7 separate regions of the Homo sapiens genome follow, and regions 1, 2, 3, 4, 5 and 7 are each reported to be linked to region 6. The links are microRNA targets in miRTarBase. Many come from high-throughput screens and were not tested one by one. Region 6 holds a microRNA gene; each other region holds the end of a gene's coding sequence.

The links. The annotated mature microRNA hsa-miR-204-5p reads UUCCCUUUGUCAUCCUAUGCCU and lies in region 6 at 2,420-2,441, shown strand. An mRNA with a match to its seed (bases 2 to 7 or 8) in the 3' UTR can be bound and repressed. Matches are read on the target gene's strand: a 7mer-m8 pairs with bases 2 to 8, a 7mer-A1 pairs with bases 2 to 7 and ends in A, and an 8mer does both.
Region 1: miRTarBase lists TM4SF20 as a target of hsa-miR-204-5p. Seed matches in the 3' UTR shown: 7mer-A1 at 851-857.
Region 2: miRTarBase lists ZCCHC24 as a target of hsa-miR-204-5p. Seed matches in the 3' UTR shown: 7mer-m8 at 1,274-1,280, 7mer-A1 at 478-484 and 8mer at 447-454.
Region 3: miRTarBase lists POP4 as a target of hsa-miR-204-5p. Seed matches in the 3' UTR shown: 8mer at 3,251-3,258 and 7mer-A1 at 2,503-2,509.
Region 4: the mRNA of PTPRT is a reported target of hsa-miR-204-5p. Seed matches in the 3' UTR shown: 7mer-m8 at 3,077-3,083 and 7mer-m8 at 1,752-1,758.
Region 5: miRTarBase lists MIER3 as a target of hsa-miR-204-5p. Seed matches in the 3' UTR shown: 7mer-m8 at 1,899-1,905.
Region 7: the mRNA of NPTX1 is a reported target of hsa-miR-204-5p. The part of its 3' UTR that is shown has no 7-base or 8-base seed match.

Annotation. Positions count from the first base shown.
Region 1 is chr2:227,360,271-227,364,337 of GRCh38, reverse strand. TM4SF20 (transmembrane 4 L six family member 20) reads left to right here. Exons shown (of 4, transcript NM_024795.4): 4 at 326-2,300. The coding sequence ends at 614. Among named protein-coding and RNA genes, the nearest start is that of TM4SF20, 17 kb to the left of the region's middle.
Region 2 is chr10:79,382,658-79,386,724 of GRCh38, forward strand. It overlaps ZCCHC24 (zinc finger CCHC-type containing 24), which reads right to left. Exons shown (of 4, transcript NM_153367.4): 4 at 1-3,801. The coding sequence ends at 3,688. Among named protein-coding and RNA genes, the nearest start is that of PPIF, 37 kb to the left of the region's middle. RefSeq lists an enhancer at 3,406-4,067.
Region 3 is chr19:29,615,006-29,619,072 of GRCh38, reverse strand. It overlaps POP4 (POP4 ribonuclease P/MRP subunit), which reads right to left. Exons shown (of 7, transcript NM_006627.3): 7 at 1,836-3,829. The coding sequence ends at 3,693. Among named protein-coding and RNA genes, the nearest start is that of POP4, 11 kb to the right of the region's middle.
Region 4 is chr20:42,077,031-42,081,097 of GRCh38, forward strand. It overlaps PTPRT (protein tyrosine phosphatase receptor type T), which reads right to left. Exons shown (of 31, transcript NM_007050.6): 31 at 1-3,902. The coding sequence ends at 3,849. All of the region lies in intron 2 of LOC101927182 (a long non-coding RNA gene), which reads left to right. Among named protein-coding and RNA genes, the nearest start is that of CHD6, 460 kb to the left of the region's middle.
Region 5 is chr5:56,919,463-56,923,529 of GRCh38, reverse strand. MIER3 (MIER family member 3) reads left to right here. Exons shown (of 13, transcript NM_001297599.2): 13 at 1-3,927. The coding sequence ends at 402. It also overlaps a transcript of SETD9 not described here. Among named protein-coding and RNA genes, the nearest start is that of SETD9, 12 kb to the right of the region's middle.
Region 6 is chr9:70,808,405-70,812,471 of GRCh38, reverse strand. It overlaps MIR204 (microRNA 204), which reads left to right and starts at 2,388; the gene lies at 2,388-2,497. All of the region lies in intron 6 of TRPM3 (transient receptor potential cation channel subfamily M member 3), which reads left to right.
Region 7 is chr17:80,467,387-80,471,453 of GRCh38, forward strand. NPTX1 (neuronal pentraxin 1) reads right to left here. Exons shown (of 5, transcript NM_002522.4): 5 at 1-3,648. The coding sequence ends at 3,427. Among named protein-coding and RNA genes, the nearest start is that of NPTX1, 7.2 kb to the right of the region's middle. RefSeq lists an enhancer at 539-1,263.

The DNA of each region.
Region 1 (4,067 bases), not on the chromosome of region 6:
TGAATAAATAAAATAAATAGGTTGAACCACGAAAAACTGTTGACATTCAACTATTTCTGACATCCCAAAACAGCAGTTTCATACCGTTCAACCTAAGAGAAGATGTACCATAGAGATGCTTGTTAAATGATGGGCTATATAAGTAATAAAAGTTTTGTAACTAGTAGAGTATATGGACACATGCTCAGAAACCCTGATCTCTGTCATTTCTGGGCACGATATTTCAAAAGTACATTCGTTTCACTCATTCTTTTATGTGCACAATGCTACTTTCCTTTGGTCAGGGATATTTCTGAATATCTGATTTTTATCTTTTGTTTTTCAGTGACATTCATCCAGAATCCTTCAACTTGCAGTGGTTTTTCAATGACTCTTGTGCACCTCCTACTGGTTTCAATAAACCCACCAGTAACGACACCATGGCGAGTGGCTGGAGAGCATCTAGTTTCCACTTCGATTCTGAAGAAAACAAACATAGGCTTATCCACTTCTCAGTATTTTTAGGTCTATTGCTTGTTGGAATTCTGGAGGTCCTGTTTGGGCTCAGTCAGATAGTCATCGGTTTCCTTGGCTGTCTGTGTGGAGTCTCTAAGCGAAGAAGTCAAATTGTGTAGTTTAATGGGAATAAAATGTAAGTATCAGTAGTTTGAATTAATTTGAGAAGTACACTTGTTTTCAAAGTCATCTTTGAGATGATTTAAAAAATCAACCCTTCACGTAGAAAGCACGTTGTAAATGCATAACACTCTCATATCAGTGGTTGATTTGGGAAAGGTGGAGAGAATTTTCAATTAGTTTTGTGTTGTACTATTCAAATTTTTTACCTCTTCACTGTGTGTAGAGAAAGGAGAAGGGAAGGAGGATGAGAAGGAACGGAAGTCATCCTGAAAATAAAAGTACAGGACTTTTTTTTTTTTTTTTTGAGACAGGGTCTCAAAAAAGGCTGGAGTACAGTAGTACAGTGGTGCTATCTCAGCTTACTGCAGCCTCAACCTCCTGGGCTCAGGTGATTCTCCCATCTCAGCCTCCCTAGTAGCTGGGACTACAGGTGCGTGCCACTATGCCAAGCTAATTTTTGTATTTTTAGTAGAGATGGGGGTTTTCCATATTGCCCAGGCTGGTCCCGAACTCATGGACTCAAGTGATCTGCCTGCCTCAGCCTCCTAAAGTGCTGCGATTACAGGCATGAGCCATCGCGCCTAAAGGACAGGACCTTTTTATTGTATTTCTTTAAAGAATAAATACATAACCTGAATGCAATCAAGTCTTTAGATCTAATTCTCAGCTTGCAGGGAACACTAGGACAAATCCAAAAAGTGGGTCAGCGGGCACAGAATGGCCCAATTTTCAACAGGAAAATGTTATAAAAGAAAAATATTTTTGAGGGAACTGTTATAGATTAAGAGAATAGAGGCATGTTTCAGCTAAACACATGTAAACTTTGTCAGAGATAATTGGGAGGAGTATGTAGAAGAATCGGATTATTGTTAATTTTGGTAGGTCTGATAATGGTTTTATAGTATAAAGGCTGAGTACCCCTTATCCAAAATGATTAAGATCAGAAGTGTTTTGGCTTTCACATTTTTTTGGATTTTGGAATTTTGCCTATAATAATGAGACATCTTGGGGATGGGATGCAAGTCTAACCACAAAATTCATTTATGTCTCATACACACTTTGAACACCTGGCCTGAAGGTAATTTCACACAATATTTTAAATAACTTTGTGCATGAAACACAATTTTGACTGCATTTTGACTGCAACTCATCACATGAGGTCAGGTATGGAATTTTCCACTTGTGGTGTTACGTTACTGGCTCAAAAAGTTTTGGATCTCGGAGCATTCTGGATTTTGAATTTTTGGATTAGTGATGCTCAACCTGTATACAGAAATGTCCTCATTTTTAAAAAAAGAAATGCATATTTATATGTTTTAAAATTACTTCAACCAAAAGCAACGGGGAGATGTTTACTGTTATATTTAGGTGACAGGTACATGGCAATTCATTATACCCTCCTATTTTCCTATGTTTACATTATTCATTAATTAAAAAACAATACCTAGAAAAACCCAAGACTTTCAAAAGCTATTTTCTATATGTGCCAATCTTTAAAAAACAGGATAACAAGGGTATTTATCACATTAAAATGTTGTAAAACAGCAAAGCTAAAAATCTAAAATTTTCTGAATGTTATTTCTATATTTCAATTGTTTATGTTCATTGGGCTTAAGGTTCCAGAAATAATTTGCAGTACCTACATTATAGCTGCCTAAATAAATTTAGTAACATCAAGAGCTTATAAGCCTTTTTTCTGAACATTTACTATATAAAAACATTCTTCCTACACCCCTACAAATACTTACTTGTCCTTAAGGCCTAGCTTAAGTATCTCCTACTTGAGGAAGCCTTCCCAGTGCTCATGATCCAATAAACCAAGTCAGCACTTACCCAAGCCTCTATTATCATTCCTGTCATAATGTAACATACATGTGTTTGTACGTCCATCACTATAGTATTCAGGAGCACAGGAACCACGTTCATCAGCCCTCACCTCTTCAGGTCCTTAGCAACGCCTCTCATTTCCCCACCTCCAGCCCCATTCCTACCCCCACCTGCCTTATCTCTGGCAGCACTCTTTATCCTTGACTTCAGCACAAATACCACTTTTTCTGAGAGGCTATTCCTAAACGTCTAATGAAAACTAGGTTTCCCTTTACTCTTTTACCATGCTTTCATTTACAGCATTTATCACAATGATGATTGCATTTTCCTTTGTGCTTGCTTCTTAAATTTCACTGTCCCCCATTAGACTATAAGCTCCAGGGGTACAGGAACATGTTTATTCCCTCCTGGTATAAAGAGTACTTAGTACAGTGCCTGGTACAAAGCAGAAACATTGCATTTAGTTGAATGAATTAATGAATCCTATCTTCAGTACTCAGCTTTTAGCGAAGACTCGATACTTACTCAATGAACTGTCAAACTGCTAATGGTCATGTAATTAAAACAAAAATAAGACAGCTCACTGTACTCTAGTGAACAAGGGTCAGCAATGGTGCTTACAAATTTTCTCATCACCCCCCAAAATATTTATGCCATGTACTTTCCCCAAAATGTGACTTCATTAATTCAGCCAGTGACCAGAGTATCCTTACATCAATGAGTAAATATAAAAACTTTATTGGAATAGCATGTTAGCAGCAGTGAACAGGGCATGGCACAGAAGGTTTCCAAAACAAGTTTAGCATGAAGGATGCCATATGCTGTTGCCAACAACTAGAACACGGTGACTAAAGACACAGTTCTGAATGTCCAGCACAACCTCTGGCCTGCAACTATGTTCAGTGATGATGATAAACAAGGTGGTGACTTGGAAGGAATCCCTATGTCAAGTGAGAAAAAAAAATGATGTCTGACCTCCTTATATATGTAAAAAATATACCTTCAGAGTCCGTCAGTAAGCTGGAAGAAGTGGATGTTGAAGTTTTTAACATCGATGATGGGTCTCCAGTTGTTCATCAACCCATGGTGAAATAGCTGAACGGTTCTGAATCAAAGGTGATCCTAATAGTGAAGACATTAACATTGCAGAAAAAGTGCCTACAGATTATATGGTGAAAATACGTGATGGGCTTCTTGAAGGACTAGAGCAGTGTGTATTCAAAACAGAACAAGAAATCACGTCAGTTTATAAAAGCAAAGAGAGGTTTCTCAGACAAAAACATTGTTCATGAGGTAGATGACTCTGGAAGAAATACTTTAAAAAGCCACTGAGAAGAATGCCTCGTCTCCACAGGATCCACTTCCTAGCCTCTCAACTGCTTCTCATGTTTCTTCTCACTGAAAAAAATAGTGTCCAGTAATCTTTACTCCAACAGTACCGCCAGTGGGGACAGGAAACTTGCCGTGGCTGTTCTTGGTTGTGGCTGTTGTCTAACAGCTGGTGCAGTATCTGGTGATGCCCCTGTGCTGCTTAGTTACTTGAACGCAGTTTTTTCACTGTATTAATAGTGTGTCATTTTTTAATGTTAAGTATTTATGTGTGAAAAAGTGTTAAGAAAAAA
Region 2 (4,067 bases), not on the chromosome of region 6:
GGAACACCCCCATTTCAGGGTTAGTCGTTGGACTGAGCTACAATGTAGTGAGGTTGGATTAAATATTCGTTTAGAGTAGATTCAAGTCTATTAGATGCTGGAGGGCTGGTGTAAGGGCTCCGGTTGACATTTCCAAGTTCAAGGAGCATGGCCTGGAGGAGGCGTGGCTCAGATGGCAAAGCTCCCGAGCGGCGAGGCCAGGCTTTGCCCCACTTCTTCTTCCCTCCTGGGGCCCTGCTGATTGAGAGCCCTCCCACCAAGCCAAGACGCTGGTGGACCACAGAGGGGCTGGTTAGTCAAATAAGCTGCTTCTTCCCCTTGCCCACTCCCTGTCCCTCTACAAAATTAATAAAACCGTAATAACAAGATAAGAAGAAGAAGGTGCAAGAGAATGGATTACAATGCTGTTTGTTATCCTCAGTGGAAGAGGCACAAAGGGGTCACCATTCCCTTTTTCACTATGTATCGAATTATAGCTTCCCTTAAAAAAGGCAATACTTTCCAAAATACACATATGTATAAATACAGGACAAGAACATATTAATAAGTCTAAACACTTGAATAATATGCTGTCTACTTAATACTGATATTTTCATCCAGGGAAAACAACACAGAAAAACAACAATATGGCTTAAAGAATTGCAAAGATTTTTTTTCCTCATCAGAATTATGTACCAACTTCATATAATATTCTATGTAGACAATATTTCCTTCTGAATGTAGTTCAGTTGCATATTTTTACAGACCAAAGCATAGTAAAAAACAAACAAAAACCAACCAAAAACCCAATAACGGGAAACAGAAAAGTTCTCACCATAAATATTTTCTTGCAGCTCAACCAGAAGGTTGGCAAAATACTTCCAGAAATCTTTGTTTGATATTCTCTTGCCCTCCTGAAAGTTCTGAAATTTTGAAAATGCCTCTCTTTTTGTTTGTTTTAATCTCAAAAATCAAACAATTATATTTTTCTTTTCTTTTTTTTTTTTTAAAAAAAGGCCCTCAAATATATACAGACAAAAAATTACTGTGAAGATTTTTTCGGGAAAAGCTACCAAATTCAGTGTTGTGAGAAAAACTGGTAACCATGCAGAAATTTTAACATCTATGAATTTTTTTTCCAAAATACACACATATTTTTTTAAAAAAGGAATTCTGTGTCAAGTATAACTCAAAATAAATACAAATTCACAAGTAGAACTATTGAATACTTCATATGGGGTAAACACCATTATCTCCCAACTAGATCGCTAGATCTACCAACTGCAAGCGATTGTCCCTTTTGAACGTACTAAAACCACACACTTTCCCATCCCCTGGGCTCCTGGCCCTCTGAGCACTTAATTCTCAATGGCACCTGGCCTGCATGGCAGGGGCTTTGCTGACCACAAGAGAGTTCCCCAGTTCAGCCAGAGCCGAGTCAAGGGGAGTATGGAAGGTGGGCCTCAAAGCGGGAACCCCAGCCCCCAAGGTGGCTGGCTCTGCACAGATGGCAGGGCAGTGGCTACCTGCTGAACAGCTCACTGGCAAGGTCACTTTGGGGTGATATCCCAACTCCCCTTAGCCCGTGCAGGGAAGCCCTGGCCTCCAGTGGTCTGGGGCCTGGGTTAGTTTTAGGGTGTGGGCCCCCCACCTTTGCAGCACAGCTGGCAGGCCCCAGGCATCCTTGGGCCAAGGTCCCCCATGGCCGGGTCCCTGGAAGGGTTGGCACAGGCACGCCGCCCACCACTGCGAACATTCTCTTTAGCAGTGCGGTAGGATGACTGTCAGTGGCAGCTTCTCCTTGGGACAGAAGCCTGGGCCGGGGCCAACCCCAGCTCACCTCAACACCTTGGAGAAGACGGGGAACAACGTGCTCGGGGAGTCCTCAGTGGCAGTCCCCAGTGGTGGCAAGGGTGTCCACAGCCTGCTGCCTGGCCTGGAGCAAATACCTTTTTTAAGTGCTCAGAGGGTATGGCCCCTCAAATCCACCCTGCAGCTCCCTGGCTGCAAATACACTCACTCCATCTTTTCAACTCGCTCCCTGGACCCCTGGTTAACACTTCACTGTAACTCCTCAGTTGTACAAAGCATTTTCATTTGAATACAAAAGGCAACTGGACACCAGATGGGCATCCTTGAGCCATGGTAAACACTGAATTTCAGGCTCATTTCTTGGTCTGATTTTTTTTTTTTCCCACAGAGGCATAATGTAGGGGCAAAATCAAGAGACCCAGTTCTGACAGCCGGGAGAAAGGAAGGGTCAAGACCATGGAAACGGGGCTTCTCATCCGGGAGACAGAGGAGCGCACGATCCCGCCGCCAGCCAGGACAGTGGGCTCCCTGGCCACGGACGTGCCACGAGGCCTCTCTGCTCCCTTGGGAGGTAGGAAATTATTGTCTCCATTTTAGAAAAGAGGGGTTCTGTGGCTTGTCTCAGGGTTCTCCATGTCAGGGGCTAGGAGACCGAGGTGAGAAGGAGGGGGCTCCTCCATGTTTGCAGGGGTGGGGGATGAAAAGCAGGGCTGGGGCTGCAGGGGCCAGCAGGGGAGGACTCAGCATCCCTCAGCTTGACTTCCTAAGACACCAAGTGAAGGGTCACGATGCGGGGTACCTGGCACCTGGGAGGTTTCTCCCACCATTCTGGGTGAAACTCCCCAAATAAAGCTCCAGGACACAGCACCGGCCAGCCTGAATCCCAGAACAACAGAGCTGAAATGGGCCCTCTGCTCTCTAGTGTTATGCTGTCATTTAACTAATGGGGAAACTGAGGCCTGGAGATGCGAAGTCCTTGCCCAAGGTGACACAATGCGTCGGCAGCAGGGCAAAGACTTGAGCCGAGGTCTCCAGAACACCAGGCTTGTGTCCTTTCTGCTGGAACAGACACGCTGGGCTTCCACACTGGGCCCAGCTATCTTGATGTGGACCCCCAGAGTGGGTGGGAGGCAGAGGGGAAGGAAAGGGAGTGGGGCTGACAAAACCTAAGGCAGTCTGGTGGGGGTCGTGGGAGGGGCTGCCCCACGTTCACCAGGACGCATCTCTCCAGCATTCTGTGCCTCCCCCATGCCTAACCCCTCCTATCTGGGTCCATAGCGTGGGGAGGGGGGCACACCCAGGTGCAATGCCAGTGATGTCAGAGGGGGTCTGGATTTGGGGCTTAAGGTGGGCAAGGGACAGAGAGGTCCACTCCCCAGCCGCTGTTGGAACACATGTCCCCTTGCCACGATTGCTGACTCAGGAAAGAGGGATTTCTGAGAGTGGCTTTCCATACAGGGCAAACCGGAAGGTTCTGGGTGGGGGCAGGCGGCCTGGCTGGTCTGGGGAGGTTTGGGATTCACAGTCAATTTAGTGCACCTGTGGCCAATACAAGGCTGCTCACCCCAAAGAGGCTCTCAGAGGCGAGCCTGTGGGGACACCCAGGGCTCCTGGACATGGGCTTTTGCTTGCCTTTGTCCCCTCCACTGAGACCCCAGGCCCGCCTGCAAAAAGCCCCAGACTCCCTGCTTTCCCTGGCCTGTGGGGGGCAGCAATGTCAGTAACACTGTTTGTCAACACACACAAGACAAGGACGCTAAGAGCCCCCGGCCCAGCCCCGCAGGCCTGCGAGGGCACCCCATGCACAGGGCGACACGCAGCCCCTCGGAGTAGCACAGGGAAGCAGCGTCTCCTCGGGCTGGCGGGGGGTGGCTCTGGGTGCGGGCGGGCAGCCCGTCACTGCACGCGACGGCAGTAGTAGCCCAGGACCTTGCACTTCTCGCAGAGGTGCTGCGGGTGCTCCTTGCTCTGGTCGGACACGTCCAGGCCGTCGGGCTTCTCCAGGGGTCTCTGCAGAGAGAAGGAGGAAGGGGCCCAGGGGAGTGAGGGGAGAGAAAGACAGAAACACAGAGACAGACAGGGAGAGACACACAGAGACAGACAGGTGAGACAGGTACACAGGGAGGGGACCAGACAGAGAGGCACACCTCTGCAGAGACAGAGACTGACAGACACAGTGAGGGAGAGACACACACCCGATGAGGGGTGGGGAGAGGGCGCCTGTGGTCACAGGTTGTTTCAGCCACGGTGCCGGGGCCCTCCTCCTGAGCCCGCAT
Region 3 (4,067 bases), not on the chromosome of region 6:
GAGGTGCAGCCCAGGGTCTGGCTGCTCTGAATGTGCACCCACTAACTCTGATATGGGAAGTTCCAGGATGCCATTCCAGGAACGCTGGGTCTAGTCTAATGGCCCCACTTGACAGATGGCGGCACCAAGGTCCCCAAGACTTCAGAACTGCGTGAATGGATCAGCAGAACTCCACCTCCTGCCCCATGGATTAGGGCTTTTCCAGCATCTCTGCCATCTCTCCACTCCTGGCAGCCATATACCCCTTCCGGCCTCTCCTCCTGCCTGCCTGAGCCCAGGGGGCAGACCCTCGCAGGCTTCCCCTGCCTTCCTGGGTCCTCCACAATGCTTCTGCGGGCTCCTGCCCTGAGCCTTGGTGTGAATACACTCTTCACACCCACAGCTGCCTAGAGCCGGAGCCCCTGCTCCAGGGAGACTTCTCTGCCCATCCTGCCCACCTGCACACGCATTTCCTCCCCCATCCAGACTGTGCCTGGCCCCAGCGGGAGGAGGAGTTCAGCTGTTTGCAAAAGTGAAGGGGAACTGGGCAGCTCAGGGGCCCCGGGTACTGGAGGGAGCAGCCCTGGACCCAAGTTCCTGTATGAGCATGTCACAGAATCCAGTGGTGATGGCAGCTCAGGGGCCAGCATTGGGGCTGGCTGGACTGGCTAGTGGTCCAAGCAGCCCATATGGGGGAAAGAGAAGGCCTGGCTAGTGTCTGAGGTTGGGAGTCAGGTAGCTGTTGGAGTCTTTCTGGGAGGCACAACCAGGCTGTCCTGGCTGGGAAAGCTTCGGGGTGGCTGTGGACTGACTTGGGTCTCCAAATTCATATGATAAAGCCCTTGCCCCCACTGTGACTGTCTGGAGACTTTCACGAGTTCATAAGAACACGGCCTGATCCAATAGGACTGGCGTCCTTCTACAAGGAAAAGACCCGAGGGATCACTTTCCTTGCACACAGGGAGGAAAGGCCATGTGAGGACAAGAAGGGAGAGGCCTCTCCAGAAACCAGCCCTGCCAGCACCTTGATCTTTGGCTTCCAGCCTCAAGAGCTGTGAGAAAATGCTGCAGCCCCAGTGTGTGGCATTTTGTTATGAAGATTAGAGCAGATGGATACATCAGCCATGGCCCACGCTGTCCTTTCGCTGTCCTTTCTCCTCCAAGAACCTCATCCTTTCCCCCGAGGCTCTGGCCTATCCTCTGCAGACCCTGTGTGGCAGCTGGGCACTGGGAAGATGTAAAGGGCCCCTGGGCCCCACTCTTTGAGCAGTGGGTCGCTGGGCTGATGTCTCCCAGTCCTGCAGCCTCTGGGTCCTGTCCTGAGTTGCTAACCACTCTCTCCTCTTTGGCACTTTCTCTGGTGCATGGAGGCTTACACAAGTCGAATGTGGCTCTGTCTCCCGTGGGACCACATGGCCAAGGCCTCAGCTCTGCCAGGGTCCTGCTCCTTGGACAGTGGACATGGGAGAGATCGGGCCAAAAAGCACCACATTACCCTCCATGACAAGCTGTGCCGCAGCCTGTGGAGACATGGCAGCCCTGGCCCCTGCCACGGCCCCTGGGCCTCAGATCATGCTTTCTGCAGCTGTTCCTCATCAGGAACCATGTCCCGCCCAGCTGGGCCCTCCCCTTTCCCTCCTCTACCTGGGAGATATGACCCCTGGGTGGGCCATGAGGGCAACAGTGTATCCTAGAAACAGGCAGGCACAGCGGCAGCTTAGTGGCCGGTGAGCACCCTCACCATGTCTCCTTGGGGGAGAGGGAGAGGTATCTACAAATTAAACCGCCACTCACACAGAAACTTGAGTCTGAGCTAAATGAAAAACAGATTTCACATGGCAAGTGGTACCTACAACTTTTCTGGAAAGCAACTGTGTATTTACACAACAGTGGACGCCTTTTACATTGCAGAGGGGCGGGTAAGAGCGGGATGGCTAGGAAGCTACAGCACCTATTTGGTTATGAACACAGCATTTTCAGATGGCTGGGGGAATAGATGCCACTTCCCACTCAAGACAGGGATTTGCTCAGCGGGAAAGCAGGTAATAAAGGCAGCACATCCTGCACTTTGAACTGCATCCGTCTCATCCTGCAGCCACCCTGTAGCTCAAAGCACAGTTCTGGAGCCTATTAGGTCCAAATCTCAATCTACCCTTGAGTCAGCGAGGCCTTAGGCAAGAGGTCCCTCGAAGTCTGTCTTCCTGTGGCAGATGAGGACGGCCACACCACAAGGCAGTCGCTGGGCCGGGGCCCGTGTCCGAGGTGGCAGTGTGCTTGGGCTCCATGTGCCTAGCCCGTGCGTGTGTTCATCACTGGCAGCGGTGACTGCGTGCTGCTTGGGGGAGAGCACTTGAGCTGCCTCAGAACACCCTGGTGAGCGGAGGACACTTGCATGGATGGAAGCAGGACCGAGGCACCGTGTTGGTCCCTGTGAGACTCTGGGTGCACTGAGCTTTGGGGAGGGGTGGTGGCACAGACCTGGGCCTTTCTACTCTCCTGGCACACAGCAGTCAGCGCTCCCACTTCCCTTCTCCACTACGGTGTTTCTCTCTGGTGTGGTTTGGGTGGAAGTTACCAGAAACGCAAAGCCCTGGCACTGCTACTTCTCCTGGGGGAGAACAGATTTGTGGCCTGCCTTTCGCCAGGAGGGCTCCTGGCCTTGCCTTGCTGATCGGCAGAGACTTGCTCCTCAAAGGGAAGGGGTAGTTGGTCCTTCTGAGCCATGTTTCCAACCCATCTGGTAGGCTGGTCCCCTGCCCCGCTCTCACTGCAGCCCTGGGCCCGCTTTTCCTCTGGCCCTGCATGGAAGGGCCTGACCCACTGGCTTTACAGACACATGGTCACAGAGGGCCAGGGTCAGACTGAAAAGCCAAGTCTTTCAGCAGCAAAAATGGCGAAGATATCAAAGGGCGTCAATGCTGCTGGCTTGGCTTTTGCAGCAGGTCTCACCTCGGGAGGTGATGCCGGGCGACCTCCTTTCAGTCCTCCATGGCTCAGCCTGGCAGCTCAGGAGTGGGCATGCTGCGGCAGGTCCCATCTCACTACGCTGGGGCAACCATGCATGGGCACAGCTGCATGCAGTACTCTGCTCCTGGGGTCCACCCCAGCTATGATTCCTGAAGTGAATAAACCCTAAGTCACTTAGCAACTCACCCTTCAATCCTCTTCAACCTTCCTGAAATAGCAAAGTAAACCTTAGGTGGGTCAGAGTTCCACCCAAAGGCGAGCCTCTGTAGACACCTGCCATCCAATGGACCTTTGGGGACCCCCCTTCCCTTTCAACCTGGCTGGACTGCAGCAATACCTCCTTTATTTGATCCCTGTTTATGTCCACATATGTACTGTATTATCACAGATGCAACTGATTTATCATAGAGCACTCAGAAAACATGGAAAAGTATTTTTAAAAATCGAATAATCCTATTCAAGTCAACCAGTGTTAACCCCGGTGTGCTTCCTGCCAGTCTGTTCCTCCCCATGGGAGTCACACAAAATGAAAATCTCCTAGAAAGAGAAATTCCTCTGTCCTCTGACTTCTTCACTTAGTACGCTGCGACCTTCCCATGTTGTTCAACATCCTCAACTCGGAGCGTCACTGGCTGGAGGTGGTCTATAAATGGAATTGGCTTAACTATCTCTTCACTGAAAGGTGGACATTTAGGGAGTGTCCAGTTTTCAGCTGTCATAAACAACTGCCTTAGACGGCAAAGAATTCACAGGTCAATCGTTCCCTTCGCTTTGAACTTCTTCGCAGACCGTTCACTTGACCGAAGCTGGAATTTGCTCCCGTAAATGTAGGAAATAAAGCCATCGGTTTCCACAGTGAACACGCAGTTTAGCTTGGGGATAACTGAAAAAAAAAAAAAAAAAGGCAGGAGAAAAAAAGATGAGGAAAAATATTTATTAATATTTTACTTTTAGGTAGAATATTATTCAGAACACATTGAATGAAAAAAATAAGCTAATAGGAAACGGGAAACCCACAAGGGGAGGGGCATTAGGGTTGCCTGTGGTTATTCTGCCACAGGTCAATCTAGTCACATGCTAAATGTAGCTTGGCACCTAATCTTCAGGGTCAAAGGCTATAC
Region 4 (4,067 bases), not on the chromosome of region 6:
GGCAAGTGATTTCTCCCCTAGGAGCCTTAGTTTCCTCATCAGTAAATGGTGACAATCACAAACCCTCCTTTAGAATGCTGGAAGAATTTAATGAGCTCACATGTTAGAGTCCCCAGCATAGGGTCTGTTGGTTCCTTTGCAGGCCACACCCACAGAGAGGGCCAGCACTAAAAGCAAACTGTCCCCTTCCATTCCCACAAAGAGAGGCCTACTGTGGCCTTCTAGAGGCCCAAGGACCCCTGGTTGGCCCAGATTCTTCACCCCAGAAAGGATGCAATGTTGGAGTGCAGCTAAGATACATCCTGAAGCTATTTAGGCCATAAACACAGGTGGAGAAATTTCCTGGGCTTCTCATTACTTCCTTGCATCTTCCCCAAACAGAGCCCACATCTATGAGGTAAGAGCTCCTGTTGTAAAGACTCAGAGAGCATTAATAATATTTTCCTCTGCTCATGACAGGCTGAGCTCACCCTGTAAATGGGGTGGGGTGGGGAGACCCCCTGGGGGTGGTGGTGTTGGCTCCGGAGATTTCCTGGGTAAAGGAAAATGTTCAAATTCCTGGGCACTGGTGCCCCATCTCATCCAAGCCTTGCCACATCCTTGTCCCATGGGATCTTAGGGAAGTCATCCCCATCCATAAGCCTCAATTTCTTCCTGTGTGCACTGGCCTAAGACCTATTCACTGTCCTGCTTTAGAGAATGGTTGGGTTGTGGGAAAATAAGGGGATGAGCTGGGGGAAATCATCACTGGCCCTTGCTGGGTTACCCCAACATGGCCTGAGATTTTTTTTTTTTGCAAGTTTGTTTCTCCCTGAAGTCACACCTTAAATTCCTACCATTTAAAATGATAAAAGCCACTGTCTTTTGTATCTGCCAGCTATTTCACCCCTTCCTGAGCAGAAAAAAATCTTAGGATTTGTGTTAAATAGCTCTCCCTCCACCCTCATCCTGTCTGGATGTACCAAGATCTAAGAAAATAGCATACAGCAGGCAGATTTGCCATGCTACAGGCTCCTTGCAGGCTGGGGAAGGCCAGCTGGGGCATTGGGCTGGAGCCGAGGGAGGCCAGCAGGCCCAGTGGGGGTGGGTCCCCGGGGTCTGCTGAAATACACCTGGGGAGAGGCTCATCAAAGGAAAAGAGCAAGTTCATCGTGGGGTTCCTTTGCTTGCCTTTGCTTTGAGGCACTTCCTTTTGAACCTCTAAAGTGACAGCCCTTCCTTGATCAAGTCTGGTGTCCCTGGACTTCTGGACAGCTCCAGAGCCCATGCCAATGGAAGCAACTTTTGTCGGCTCCTTTCATGTTCCATCCTCATGGGCCTGGAGATCTGGGTTGGTGACCCTGCTCCGTGGTAAAGCAGAGACCCTGGGTTTCTCATAGAATCTGAGTCTCATGATCCATTGCATATTTAGTTCCAGCAACAAAACAATGAGCAGACAGACAAATAGATGTGATATTAAAAAGTGCACGCTTAAGGGAATGTTTTCACAGTGTCTGATGAAAGGAAAAGAGGCAGCCCCATTGGCCCAGAAGGAGTCTTGGCCAACACGAAGCTGAGTGCATCTCTCTAAAGCTCCATGGACTCCTTGTTGCCAATAGGACAAAGTCTGTACTCGCGATGGGCATCTGTCTCCTGGACCCTGGCTCATCTCTTGCTGCTCCCCGTGTTGTGCTGTGCCCGCACTGGGCTGGCCTCCCCCAGACTGCTTCTCCCAATGCCTTTTCACATTTCTTTGCCATTGCACATATGGATCCCTTTGCCTGAGTTTCCTTTTTTTCCTTTTTATGCTTGTTAAGACCCAGCAGGAATGGACGTCCCCTTCTCCAGGAAGCCCGAGGCCGAAGAGACTTTCTTGCTCCTAGGCTCATGGAACACTCATCCACTCCACACTACTGCACCATGGTTCCATTTCCCCAGCATACAGTGGGCTCTTGAGGGCCAAAGCTGTACCTTCTTGAATTCTCTGCCCCTCATGCCCTGTCTGGGGCTAGACCAGCCTTCAAGATGGAGCTTCCTAGGTCCCAGCCCACCTGAGGCTGTCAGATATTGGGCCTAAGCACTGGCTAGAGATCAAGGTCGAGAGTTTCCCTGGCTGGTCCATTCATAGCCTGAAGGAACAGGGAATTGTTTTTACTGACTAAGAAATTAGATGAGACTGGCTTTCCTGGGGAGCTGGGAATGTGTTACTAAAATATATCTGAAATTCTGCGCTTCCCAGAAGAACTGGCATCAGGAAGAAAGTACTAAATTTCCATTTGTGGAGTTATCTGCTCAGAAGTTTCTGGCCTTATTTTCCCTCCATAAAATAATTGCTTGGCTTAGAGAAGATGAAGAAAACAGCACGGAGAAGTCTCATTGCCATTACCTGCCCCTTTGGAACCCAGGATTTCATTACTAAGGAAGGTGCGTGGGTTTCCTCATTGGAGGAGATGATCAAATGGAGATGATAACAAGTCAGTAGCTCTCTCCTGGGGGTTCTAAGGACTGTGTGAAATGTCCTATGGAAAGTGCCAAGCATGATCCCTGGCATACAGTAGAGACTTAGCAAATGTTGGTTCCCTCTCATTGACTCACTCACACTTTGGACAAGACCCTAGATCTCCAGGCCTGATTCTCTTGGCCTATTTTAAATCAAAGTATAATGGGCTCCACAATGGCCTTTTTCAAGGTGGCTGCTGGGTTTCTTTAGGAAGGAGTTCAAATTTGGACATCCAAATTATGCACAAAGCTGGTGCTCTATTTGCCCCAGAAACCAAAGGGACCATCTTCAGGCTCACCCATCTCTCCTTGCTCAGTGGCATGCTGTCCCAGGGTGGGAGCTTTTAAGGACATTGCCAGGAAAAAATAAAAGGCCCGAGAGATTTGTCTTAGAGGTACATACTCAAACTCCCCCGCCCCCTTCTTTTTGACATAAGAGACTAAGATTTTACACCCTCCAAAAGAAAGTTTCTTTTCACATACACTTTGGAAAATAATCAAATCTTATCTTGTTTGTCTCTTCCAAAGAAAGCTACCACCAAAGAAACACAGGGGTTACATCCTACAGGTCAGCCCAAGCCCTGCCCCAGGGAGGTGGTCCCTTTTTACAAAGACAAGGAGGAGCAGAGAAGTTCCCTGCAGTTCCACCCCCTCCCACTGACCACACAAAAAAGCAAAGAACACCTTTATCAAAAACTGCTGTGGACACAGCTGGCCGGCCAGTGAATGCTGGACGGTCAAGGCCCAGGCTGGGGAAGGGGTACAGAATGGTTGTGGGCGAAGCCCCATGCAGGTTAGGTGTGAGGATGGGGGGCCTCTCTTGTGGCCTAGGGAACATCGTAAGGTCACACTGGTCCAGACTGCAAATGTCTGGTGCCAGAGGCCCCTGAAGGAGGTTGCAGGGGGCAGCAGAGCAGTGACCCCCAAGAGCCTCAATCTTTTCCATGACGTAGAGGAGCAGAACACACATCTCCTCCACTCCTAAGGAGAAGGAGGGCAGGGGAGCCTCCCACTCCCCAGCACCTGCACAGTTGGCTTGCCAAGAGATCCACAAACTCAGAACAAAAGCAGGTGGTCTGGGAGCCAGAAATCCAAGGCCTTGCTTGTGGGTGTACTTCTGCTTGGGCCCTTGGCTGTGGCTGGTTAGGTTGAAAAGGAAGCCTGGGCCTTTTGGAGCAGCATCTCCCACGGCAACAGGAGACCCCTCAGAAGGTGCAGAGCCCCCCGTGGAACACAGGGCCACCAGTCTTCTCCTTGGAGTCAGGCAGGGTGCCACCTCAGAGCTCCTGAGCCCAGTTACTGCCATTCACACAAAAGGGGGCTTGGTCACAGCAGCCTCTGGACTCCGGCAGGTTCCCCATCCCATTGAGCTAAAAGGAGCTTAAATATTCCAGTGCCACCTCGTATACAAATTTATACTGTTCCTGAGAGGCGGAGAGGAGCAGAGGCAGAGAGGGAGAAGAGGAGACGAGAGAGATGAAAAAGGAAAGGGAAAATGCATTTAGTTTAGAGATACAGATTTTGGAGAAAACTTTTTCTATATCCATATTATGTCAACTCAAAATTACCCATATCTGGACATCCTTCAA
Region 5 (4,067 bases), not on the chromosome of region 6:
GATAGCTTTCCTCCACTGGGCAACACACCCCGTGGACAAGTTAATCATGTGCCTGTTGTAACAGAAGAGTTACTCACCCTGCCCAGCAATGGGGAAAGTGATTGTTTTAATTTATTTGAGACTGGATTTTATCACTCGGAGCTAAACCCTATGAACATGTGCAGTGAAGAGTCAGAGAGACCAGCAAAAAGATTGAAAATGGGCATTGCCGTCCCTGAATCCTTTATGAATGAAGTTTCTGTAAATAACCTGGGTGTGGACTTTGAAAATCACACACATCACATCACCAGTGCCAAAATGGCTGTTTCTGTGGCTGACTTTGGCAGTCTCTCTGCCAACGAGACCAATGGTTTCATCAGTGCCCATGCTCTGCATCAGCACGCGGCCCTACACTCTGAGTGACCTGAGTGAGGATCCCGGAACTGCGTGTGCAGCACCAGTAAACTTGAGGGGAGCTATCAGGTTTGCATAGTCTTTCACTGGAAGTTTGAACCTTTCTCACTATGACATCAGTGATGTCAGTATGTATAGAACTATATCTTGATTTATCAAGAGTATTTTCATTTTTCAATCCATAAATGTGGAAATGAACTATGATCAGCAGAGTTGGGAACTAAGATTGAACTCTGTGGTGCAGCTTTAAGCTCTGCTTCTCTCTTCCTCATCTCCCAATACCTCTTCCCCACTCCCTTCTTTTTCTATTCTTTTGTGTTCCCCACTGCCCTCACTCCCAATTTTAAAACCTGTAGACAGAGGCCACCAGCTCAAAACCAGCACAGATGTTCTGAACTGAATGGTGTGGCCTGTTTTTGTGTAAATTCCTTTTGCCGTAATGGATGCAGTGGAATAACAATGTTTACAGGTACCGATCCCGATCCCTGCTCAATGTAGCATTTTTTTGGTTTTATTTTCTTAATAAAAGCAGGGGTAGGTTTCTTTAAACTGCACAAACATGCAAGGATTTTTTAAAAATGGAAACTTCTCTCATGTTATTCAACTAGAGCACTTCAGTTTACAAAACAGCAAGTCCATCTTTATGGAAGCCAGCACAAGGAACTGTGTGCAAATAATGAAGACGCTTGCTTGGATCCTGTTTCAAAATTCTAGACCAGGGCTACCTTACACAGAATTGGTCATGTTACTGCCAGGAGATTTCTGTGTAACTTCATTTATTGGCTACAGTTTTGGCATTTGAAGATGTGGTACTCAGATGGGGTTTTGTCCACCATTGTCAAGATTGTAATCTTAAAAATCATACCAGTCATTGATAATTTAGTTTATCCTGAGGCAGTCGACTTGCAGAGGCACAGTCTACAAAGCCTAGGATGTTGCCACTCAATGGTTTACATTTTGGGACATCTTTTAAGTTGTTTGTAGCACTGCAGTTCAAAGTGTTAATATTTAGAGGGACTTCTAGATTTTATACCTAATGCAGTAGAACCTTGAAGTATATTTAAGCTTTTTTGTTAAGCTTGAACAGTTGGCAAGAATAATGTGAGTTCCTATCTGAAATAGAATGGTACATTACCACTTTTAAGTTTTAAAAATTGATAGATGTTCAGATGTATCTCAAACTCAGTTTTATTTTTATTCCAAATATTGTGAATGAGAAGCCATTGTCCTAAACTTTGGCCATTTTTGTGCTATAAACATGCATTTTTAAGTTATAAGGTGAATCAAACAATATGTAATACAGTATTAGGATGTAATCTTTGCTTTTGTAGTACTGTTAAAATAGAGAATTATGTTGTTTGCACCGTCTTAATTAAAATTCTTGATTTTTACTAGTTGCTTTGCAAAAAACAAATGTTTGGCTGCATTGCTAATATTTGTAAGTATAAGTTGCTTCAAGGTTGTGCTGATGAGTAGATAGGATGTAGTGATCTTAGTAGTGATTGAAAGGGAGGGTATTTATTATACAAACTGTGAACTGCAATGACATCCTTAGTTTTGGATGATGTGTATTCTTGTTTTTCTTTGCAGCATTTTAATGAAGATTGCTTTGAAGTGTTTACGCAGTAGCACATTAGTATAAAATTTAGTTTAGCACAGTGGACAAAAAGTAGTTAAATTAATAACTTAAAATCAGTCTCTAATTTATACATCTGAAGTATAGCATTCCTGTATGCACACAGTAAATAATGGGTAGCCTGGGCTCTGTGTTACTTTCTTGTATTTTTATCCAAGTTGTCAGCTTCTTATTGCTGTGTTGTTGTGCTAAACTTTGAACCTTATTTCTTTTATTAAAAATCAGTACACTTTCTATAATTTAGTAAGATACTGGCCATAATCTTCCATTGTTATAACCTTAATTTTCACTCTGGGTTTACAGTGGCTGGTCTGTATAAATAATTTACACAAAGATGACTGAATGCTAATACCAGTTGCACTTAAATGAACATGCCCATTCTCAGTAGCTGATGCAGTAATATATTCAGTTTATCTATGCATTGCTGGGGTCTTGATATAAGATGGAAACAGTGTTTCTTATCTAAAGTTTTGATTATCAGCAAGTTGAATGGACACTTTAGTTATTTAAATAAAGATTTTTGACCAAAATCCAGAAAATGGTATGAGAGAAAAATAAATTCCAGCTAGTTTAATAGATTTTTAAATGTCAATCTGATTTTAGCCTCTTAGAGAGTGCTAACTAGCTGGTAATGTTTACTTTTAATTCCTTGTTAAAATGAGGCAATAATTTGCAAGATTTTTGTATATAAGTGTAAATTCTTCATATCTTTTTAGATCTAATTCAATATTTTCTGACTACTTCTGCCATGTATAATACCATTTTTGTGCATGCTTGATGTGACATTCATAAATTGTACCACTATGACTTTATCCATGTAAAATAGCTATTTATTGAATTTTCTTTTAAAAGCTGGATTTACTGGGTTTTTTTTTTCTCTCAGTTTAAACATCTTAACAGAGAATTTGTTACTGTTTATTAAAAGAATTGCATTTGGAAGCAAGAAAACAACCGGATTTGCAATCATGTGAAGAAACAATAATGCCTTTATTATCAAGTGTTAAGCACAATTCTTATAACAAACTGTGATAAATTCTTTTTGTTTTTTTTTCCTTTGCCCCATTATTTTCTTATGAACAAACCAAAAATTCATGGTGAGCAGTTGCAGTGTTGGCTGATATATCTTTTATGTACAGGGAATTTGAAAAGGACAGTGGATTCATTTAGAAGTGTAACTGGTGCTGTGATTATAGCAATACATTTGTTAGTTGTACTTCATCTTTTTCATGCTAGCTTTTTAAATGTTTAGTTTTCCTCTTGTCATGGTCAGCTGCTGAATTTACTTGAAGGATGTAGAATACTGTTTAAAAAATACTAAAATTTGTACAATTAGATCAAAGAATTGTGCAATCATTTCCTTTTTAATTTTTAAAATGTTGAGGCTCATAAATATTTGAGAACATCAGATCTAATAGAGCATAGTGATACTATTTAATTTAACCAAAGTCTCTAGTGAATATTTCAACTTTGAATGTAAACTAACAAATAAACCTGACCACCAAGGAGATTGTTTGCCCAGAGTTTCAAAGCACATTGTCTACAAATGGAAATTGAAATAATTTATAAAATATTGACGTTACTATGTTTTTTAAAAAGTTCCTAATTTTTTCACTAAATGGAGGAAACTATTAGTTTTATTGTTAAATATGGTAGATATTAATATTCCTCTTAGATGACCAGTGATTCCAATTGTCCCAGTTTGAAATAAGTACCCTGTGAGTATGAGATAAATTAGTGACAATCAGAACAAGTTTCAGTATCAGATGTTCAAGAGGAAGTTGCTATTGCATTGATTTTAATATTTGTACATAAACACTGATTTTTTTGAGCATTATTTTGTATTTGTTGTACTTTAATACCTGGTGTACAGTTCCAGAAATAAAAATCTGGGAATCTTTTTTTCTTGGTTTGTGTGAATATTTGCCAAAAATACAGATATTTTATTTAATGAATCTTAAGCTACAGCAAATAGATAGATATTATACCACTGTTAAATTGGTTTTAGATGCAGTAAATAAGATATATGATAGATAGTGAA
Region 6 (4,067 bases):
ATTGAGAATCCAGAGGAACCAACCCTTAGAGGCTGTGCTTCAAGTGATATTGCTTTGCATTTTCCCCAGTGAGTACATTCTTATGAGAAGGCAGCTTTGCCAGGGTATGGGTGCTGACATATAACCAAGTGATGTTGATGTTTCATGAAAAGTGGGTGAGTTCCTACATGCCTCTCACCAGCCAGCTACCAGCTGCCAAACTCCTACTTCCCAATATTTGCCACAAGTGAGGCTGCTCTCAAAGTCTAGCTTGATCCTAGGAAGCTAGGGTCTAGAGATCTAACTTGAGGATTTGGGATCTTCCCTTAATGCTGTCTCTAAGGAAGGAACAAAATGAAGGCAGAGCAGAGCTGTTCATACTCATGGGGTCCTCCTCTGAGACCATCTGACCAAAGGCTAGCTTGCTTAGCAACTCCAGAAATATGATATTACCATTAAGTTTATCTCCTAGTTTGGGAAACAATAACCAAATTGGTAGGAAACCTGCCAATTATACTGAAATGGTTTTGATGACTTTTTTGGAAGATATGTAGACATAGTCATAGATGTAGATATATTTATATCTATACCTTGGCCAGAGAGAGAAAGAGGAATCAGTCCAATTAATAATATTATGCATGTTGAGTAACATGTTAGCTTTGTTTCAATTCCTCTTTTAAAAAGAAAAGAAAAGAAACTGGGTAGATTAGCCTCTAAATGGATAGTTCTTTTAAGTCAAAAGTAGCTAAACACTTGAAACTAGAACACTTATTTCTCTAGAAATCAGGAAAATGTTATTAAAAGGAGGGAAGGAAAGAATTCAATTCCTATCGTCTCCTGGAAAACACAGAATTGGAAGATTCATAATTATCATTATAATTAATATAACAACAACTAAGATTTCTTGAGGTTTTACTAAGTTCTAAGCATCAGTACAAGCACTTAACAGATATTAACTCATTTGACCCTTTCCACACCACAGAAGCTATCTAGGCTGGAAGAGAATAAAGAATGATACTTCCTCCAGCAAAGAGCTATGATTTTTAAGGACCTGTCCAGTTGAAGGAGTGATAAGACAAGATATAGCTGGTGCAGAAGGGCTGGATGATGCTCTACATAGGTTTCACTGTGCAACTTGAGTTGCCATCACGTATATAAATTTATGTAAATTGGGTAATCCATCTGCTTTAATAAAATGTGTATGCAACCACAGGGTGTAGAAATTTCAAAGATTTTATTTTTTGACAGGATGCCTGCCGTTTTTCTCTCTTGACTCCCGCTTGTTTTATTCATTTTGGGGTAGTTGCCAGTTAGACTCAGTTGGTAAGTATAATTAATGGAAAATGTGAATTTCTTCTTAAACTCCAAGAAATTAACCACAGAAGTCTTCATTTCCTTTATAATTTCCTAACAGTATCACTCCCTATGACTGTTGTTTTATCTCTATCTCTTCTGACATTCAACCACATCAGAAATTAGTTACTCCCTATTATTTATCATCCTAAAGATACCATATAGGACAGCTTGACGGCACTATTGGGATACTACTAGGAGGGAATGAGCATTTATTTAGGTTCCAAGCACCATGCTAGGCATTTTCATATATACTATCTCTTTTAATACTCACAAAAACCCTTCAAGATAGGGATTATTTTCTTCCTTTTATACAGTTGATGAAATGGCACCTCCAAGAGGTTAAGCCTTTGCCTTAAATCCAATTAGTGGCACAGCTGGGTGCAAACCTAGGCTGACATAATTCCAAAATACTTTCTCCTTTCATCCTACACATGGAAGCATTATCTCATTTTTTTAAAAAGGCTCCCCTAAAGTTTGGTTACCTTGGAGAGTTTGAGGGTCATTATTCCATTCAGCAACTATTTGAGCACCAACTCTGTGCCAAATATAGGTTGAGCATTGATTCAGTTGGAATGAGTCATCAAGCAAAACTTTGGGAAGAAGATGGTGGTTAGTTGCAAGATGGTGGAGAAACAATATTAGGAAGAAATACAACAGGGTGCTGGAGAGGAGCGTGGGGATGGAGGCAAGCAGAGGACCTCCTGATCATGTACCCATAGAACAGGGCGATGGAGAGGAGGGTGGGGTTGGAGGCAAGAAGAGGACCTCCTGATCGTGTATCCATAGGACAGGGTGATGGAGAGGAGGGTGGGGTTGGAGGCAAGCAGAGGGCCTCCTGATCATTTACCCACAGGACAGGGTGATGGAGAGGAGGGTGAGGGTGGAGGCAAGCAGAGGACCTCCTGATCATGTACCCATAGGACAGGGTGATGGAGAGGAGGGTGGGGGTGGAGGCAAGCAGAGGACCTCCTGATCATGTACCCATAGGACAGGGTGATGGAAAGGAGGGTGGGGGTGGAGGCAAGCAGAGGACTTCCTGATCGCGTACCCATGGCTACAGTCTTTCTTCATGTGACTCGTGGACTTCCCTTTGTCATCCTATGCCTGAGAATATATGAAGGAGGCTGGGAAGGCAAAGGGACGTTCAATTGTCATCACTGGCATCTTTTTTGATCATTGCACCATCATCAAATGCATTGGGATAACCATGACATGAAATTTTCCATCATTGGGCCCATAACTGTCCCATAAGAGAGATGAAAAACACTGTATGTTAAAGGTCATAGTAGAACTTCATCCAAGCAGCTCTGGAATTAGGAAGGAGTGAAATATACTCTCAAAGACTAATAGTTCTGGGTCCAAACCATGTGACTTGAAAAGGAAGCAAAGATTCCCCTGGACAGGTTACATATACTGTCATGCATTGCTTAACGATGGGGTTACTATATCCTCAGAAATGAATCATTAGGTGATTTTGTCATGAACATCATAGAGTGTACTTATACAAACCTAGAAGGTATAACCTACTACACACCTAGGCTATATAGTATAGCCTATTGCTTGTAGGCTACAAACCTGTATAGCATGTTACTATGTGGTAGTGAATACTGTAGGCAACTGTAACACGATGGTAAGTATTTGTGTATCTAAACATAGAAAAGACACAATAAAAACATAGTATAAAAGATACAAATAGTACACCTTAATAGGGCACTTACCATGAATGGTGCTTGCAGGACTGGAAGTTGCTCTGGGTGAGTCACTGAGTGAGTGCTAGAATATTTTTGTATACTACTGTAAACTTTATAAACACTGTATAATTAGGCTATACTAAATTTATTTTTTAAATTTTATTTCTTCAAAACTAAATTAACCTTAGCTGACTGTAACTTTTTTACTTTGTAAACTTTTTAACGTTTTAAAACTTTTAGACTATTTTGCAATAATACTTAGCTTAAAACATAAGCACATTATGCAGCTATACAAAAATATTTTCTTCATTTGCTTATTCTATGAGCTTTTTTCTGTCTTTAAAATTTTTTATCTTTGTATTTTTTAAACTTTTTTCTTAAAAATGAAGACACAAACACACTCATTAAACTAGGCCTGCACAGGGTCAGAATCATCAAGATGTCACTAGGTGATAGGACTTTTTCAGCTCTATTACTACCTTATGGGACCACCATTGTATTTGTGGTCTGTCATTGACCAAAGTGTCATTATGCAACACATGACTGTATATCAAGAACATCTTATTTCCTTCTGTGGGTGCTACAATCTGTTCAGCCCAATCATGCAAACTTTCTACTGCCTCAAACAGTCAAGGGAAAGGCCTTCCAAAACACAAATACCAAATTGATGATCAGTTCACTTTAGACTGTAATGACATCATTTTTCAGGTGCTGTCAAGTAAACATGTTTAAAGCTTTCTCCGCCTTTTAGAGGGTCTTCCCTCTAAAGAATAATTTGTGAGGAATAAACAACACAATCTATATCCCTGCTTTTTCATTATATGAAACGACTTGACACAGTTGGCTGTGTAACTGAAATATTTGTCATGCTTGTTAATGAAAAGTTACTTTGTCAATAAAGGTAATAATGAAGCCAAAAAAATAACTTTGAGGGAACAGAGCAAATTTTAGCGAAACTGGTTTCTTGGTATTGACTTGTCATGTTTATCTCACCCATTTTCCTATTCAAGCTAAAGACCTCCCTTTTTTCAGCAAAGAGAC
Region 7 (4,067 bases), not on the chromosome of region 6:
CCAAGGTTCTTCTATCAAGGTTAGAACTGATATTCAAATCCTCGGCTCATTCCACTTAGTAAGTCAGCTCCAAGACACAGGTTCACCATAAATGGCCAGTTTTACCTCCTGGTCCCCAACATGCTTTTGAGAACAGGTGGCCCCTCTTTGGAGCTCACTGGAATGACTGAACCTCATGCCAGCCTCTCCTCACCCCCTCACTGCCCACAAGACACCCCCTTGGTCTCAGGTCCCAGGGCTGGTGACAAAGTGATCTTTGCAGTCTTAGAAAATAAACTGGGAATCTACAAAAGGAAAAGAAAGCATACAAAATGTATCTCTTTCTTCCAAAATACATGCTTTCAGTTCTACGTTTTGGTGGAGCCTGAAAGTATTTTCAAGGGAGATATAGGTTGAGTTAATTTATAGGTTTGTCCTTTTCTTTCATAAAAATACTCTTGTTTGGTAATAAACTTTTTCTTCTACAGTAAGAGAAATAATACTGTGTTATCAAAAGCAAGAAGGCTTACGACTCAAGTGGGATCTAAGCCCCTGAGGGCCCGGAGAGCTTCTGTCAACAGCTCTCCCACCCCGGACACCCAGGGAGCTGTCGGACACCAGCTCGGCAAAAGCAAACACTGCCTCAACAGTGCTTTTTATCTTCTTGTTTTATAAAATGGCTTACCTGAGAGAGGCATGTATTATTCAGTGCAAGAGGGAACATCAATCAGATTAAGGAGTAAATGGGAACTACGTGGATTAGATTTGCGGCTGTGTCATCGACCTTTCTCGGGGCCAGCAAAGTGCCAAGTGTCAACACAGTGAGGGAGTCGAGGGGCTTGGCTCAGACCCTAGCAAGGGGCAGGAGGGAGCTAAAGGTCAGCTTCGGCCCTGGCACCATGGGTGGGTCAGAGGAGGGGTGAGGAAGGTGAGCGGGCCAGGAGGCTGCAGGGGTGGAGGCGTAAGCACTGGGGTGTGCTCTGCCCCTCGCTAGTCAGGGCAGAGGATGGCTCATGGTCCTGAACGGACAGCTCCCACCTGGCCCACGGGGGCAGAAGGTGGTCTGCGGTCCAGTAGATCGGCAGGGGCGGGGCTGGCCGGAGGTGCTGGCAGGGGAGCACCCCACACAGCCCGCACCGGGCGTTGCCTACACAAGGGCTCCGAGATGGCTGGAGTGAGGGTGGGGCTAGATCTGGTCTAGAGAGGCGACTCCAAGCTCTCTTGCTGGCTCCCAGCTGTGGGAATCCTTTAGGCTTGTTCTCAACCTACACGTTAAAAATGCTTCTTGGTGTGTTTGGGGAGGGGGAGAGGGAAACTGAGCTCTCTCTTGACCTCCTCCAACACCCTTGACTTGCTTACCCAGCCATTTTCAGTAGCTACACGGGTGGTCACAGAACACTGGGCGGCACTCGGCACACAACACAGAACCGGGGCAGTCCATGCAGGTGCGGGAACACATGTCGGACCCAGGGAGCAAGGAACACGCCACCCCGAGGAACATGCAAACGGAGAAGATCCCTGCAGATCCAAGGATGCCACAACCCGACGGGCGCTGAGGAAGCACGATTATCTAAGAAAAAGCCACTGTTGAACAACAACGCGCAGCACGGCGCCTGATCTGCACCCCCCTCTGCGGGAGTGATGCATTGCAGAACGGCGGCCGGGTACCGTGCAGACACCCACGAGAACACTGACACAGAGACACTGACAGACACACACAGATGCACTAGGTTCTTGACACAACGTGGACCTGTGTTTAAGGGGACAGGTGGCCCTAGAAGGAACAGAAGACAGAAACACCTGCTCCTCCTGCAGAAATGTCTGCAGCTGCAGCTGAGCCAGGCAGTGCAGTAGAATTTCTAGAAAGACTTGTCAGCGGTTTGCTGATGAGACTCCTGGAGACAGAGTCGGGGTGCCCTCAGGGCGTGCGACCACCAGATGGTGCAAAGCAGGAAGCTCCTCCTACCCTGGGCAGGGCCTCCCGAGCCTGCTCTCTTTCTCACTTAGCGCACACACACACACAACACACACACACACACACAAATGCACATACACTTCTCTCCCCTCCTTGGAAGGACTAGAAGGAAATGTCCATGTTGCTTTTCACGGGGAACAAAAAAAGGCAAAAAGGTTCTGGACACTGCTCAGGTGTCAGTGTCGCCGGCCAGTGGCAGCTTGTGGGCTGCTGTAGGCCGTGAGCCCCATGAGATGGAGGAGTGGGTTTCAGGCCCCTGCCCTGGCCAGGCCTGGCTCCACACGTGAGGTCTCTGGAGTACCCCTGGAGGGGTCTGAACCAGCTCACCTGGCGCCTGGTGTGCTGGGAGGGATATGGCTGTCAAAGTCCCCCAAAAAGGACCTTCCCACCGATGGGCTGGGTTGAAGTCCCAGTGGCCCCATGTGGCCAGGTCTTCATCGAAACACGGCTTCTTTCCTTAAAAGGTCCCCTCTGGTCTGCACTGCCGGAGGCCAAAGGAGAGGGGTGCTGGGGCCCGGCTTCCCGGGCTGTGGGTGGCACGCTCCTCTCTCAGGGCCCTCTGGGCTGAAGCAGTGCAGCACAGCTCCAGAGGTGAGAAGGGAGGGGCAGACCCCAGCCTTGCAGGATCTGAGGAGGTGGGAAGGTCGAGGGCAGGGCCGTCCTGGGGCAGAGCTAGCTGAGCTGGGCACACAGGCCGACCTCCCAGGCCCCATGCTGCTCTCAGATGCAAACAGCAGGGATGGATGCTGTCTGGCCCTGGGGTAAGGGCCAGTGTCCTCAGCCATCCCCTCTCCTCCACGGGAGAGCACAGGGTACCATCCCAGGACGGCCTGCCTTCACCCTTCAGAGACAGTTCACTTCTATTACAAAATAAAAATTCTCTGTAGAGAGCCCCCGCCCCCGGCCTTTGACAAACCACTAAAAGACATTTATTACATCAATATAAAGATATGTCGCTCTGAGAAAGGTTTGCAAACAAAGACAAATGCGTGTACTGAGGTTGCACCAACCCCAAAGCACGCACGCAGCTAACAAAGTTGGCAAATATGAATTTTCATCATGAGATTTTTCCAAAGCCAGAAGAAAGAAGGAAATGAGGTACGTCCTCAAAGAAAAGGCCTCCCCCAGCCACGCACGCACACACGTAGACACACACATGTAGACACGCACACACAGATCCTCTCACCAACTTCTGCCTTGTTCAAGACGTTGCAGCACCCACTTCAGCTGTGAATGGGGCATGCCTGAGAGAGTCCGGGCTCCTACAGAGAAGTGGGGCTTCCTCAGGGACAGATGGGAGCAGGGGCTGCTTCGTGTGCATGAGGACAAAACCAGGCTGTGTGCGTGTGCGTGTGCAGGGGCGACGGCCTCGGTTCATTCCTGGGGAAAAGGGAGAGAAGAGACGCACAAAACAGATCATCGCCGCACAAGCAGGGGGCGAGGGCGGGCGGGCTCAGCCTGGCCTGCCGTGCTCAGTTGATCTGGCGACAGGCCTCGAAGGTCCACTTGGTGGCCCCTCCGTAGATCTCGATGTGGGATTCAGCCCAGGCGATGACATTGCCGGACAGAGCCTTGGTGCTGCAGGTGGCCAGGTTGTACACCTCCCCGGGGGTCAGCTTGCGGTCCCAGATGTTGAAGTGGGCCAGCTCACCCACAAATGCCTGGGTGGCATCAAACCCACCACCCAGAGTGTCCTTCAGAGAAAAACAGAGGATGAGAGTGGAGGGGTCGCCAGGTGGTCTGGGGGCCCATCCCTAGGCCGGGGATCTGAGTGCCTCTGTGCCTGCCCGATCACGGACTCTCACGGACACTCCTAGGTGCCGTTTCGTCTCCCTGTCCCTGACTCTCCAGCCCTACATCCATCCCTCCTCTGGGGGAGCCCAAGAAAAGGGATGGCACCGACCACCTCTGCCCTGGAGCTTCTCCTGGGGGGACCTGGACTCTGCCCCTCCTGCAGCTGGTCCCTCAGCCATGGACAACCACAGCAGCTGGGCCTGGGGCCCCTGCCCAGACATCACTCCATGCCAGCTAAAGCTGCCCAACAGGGACAGACGTCCCCGATTCTCCATCCCTTCGTCTTCCTCCCAGGTGCCCAACAGGAGACAAACCACTT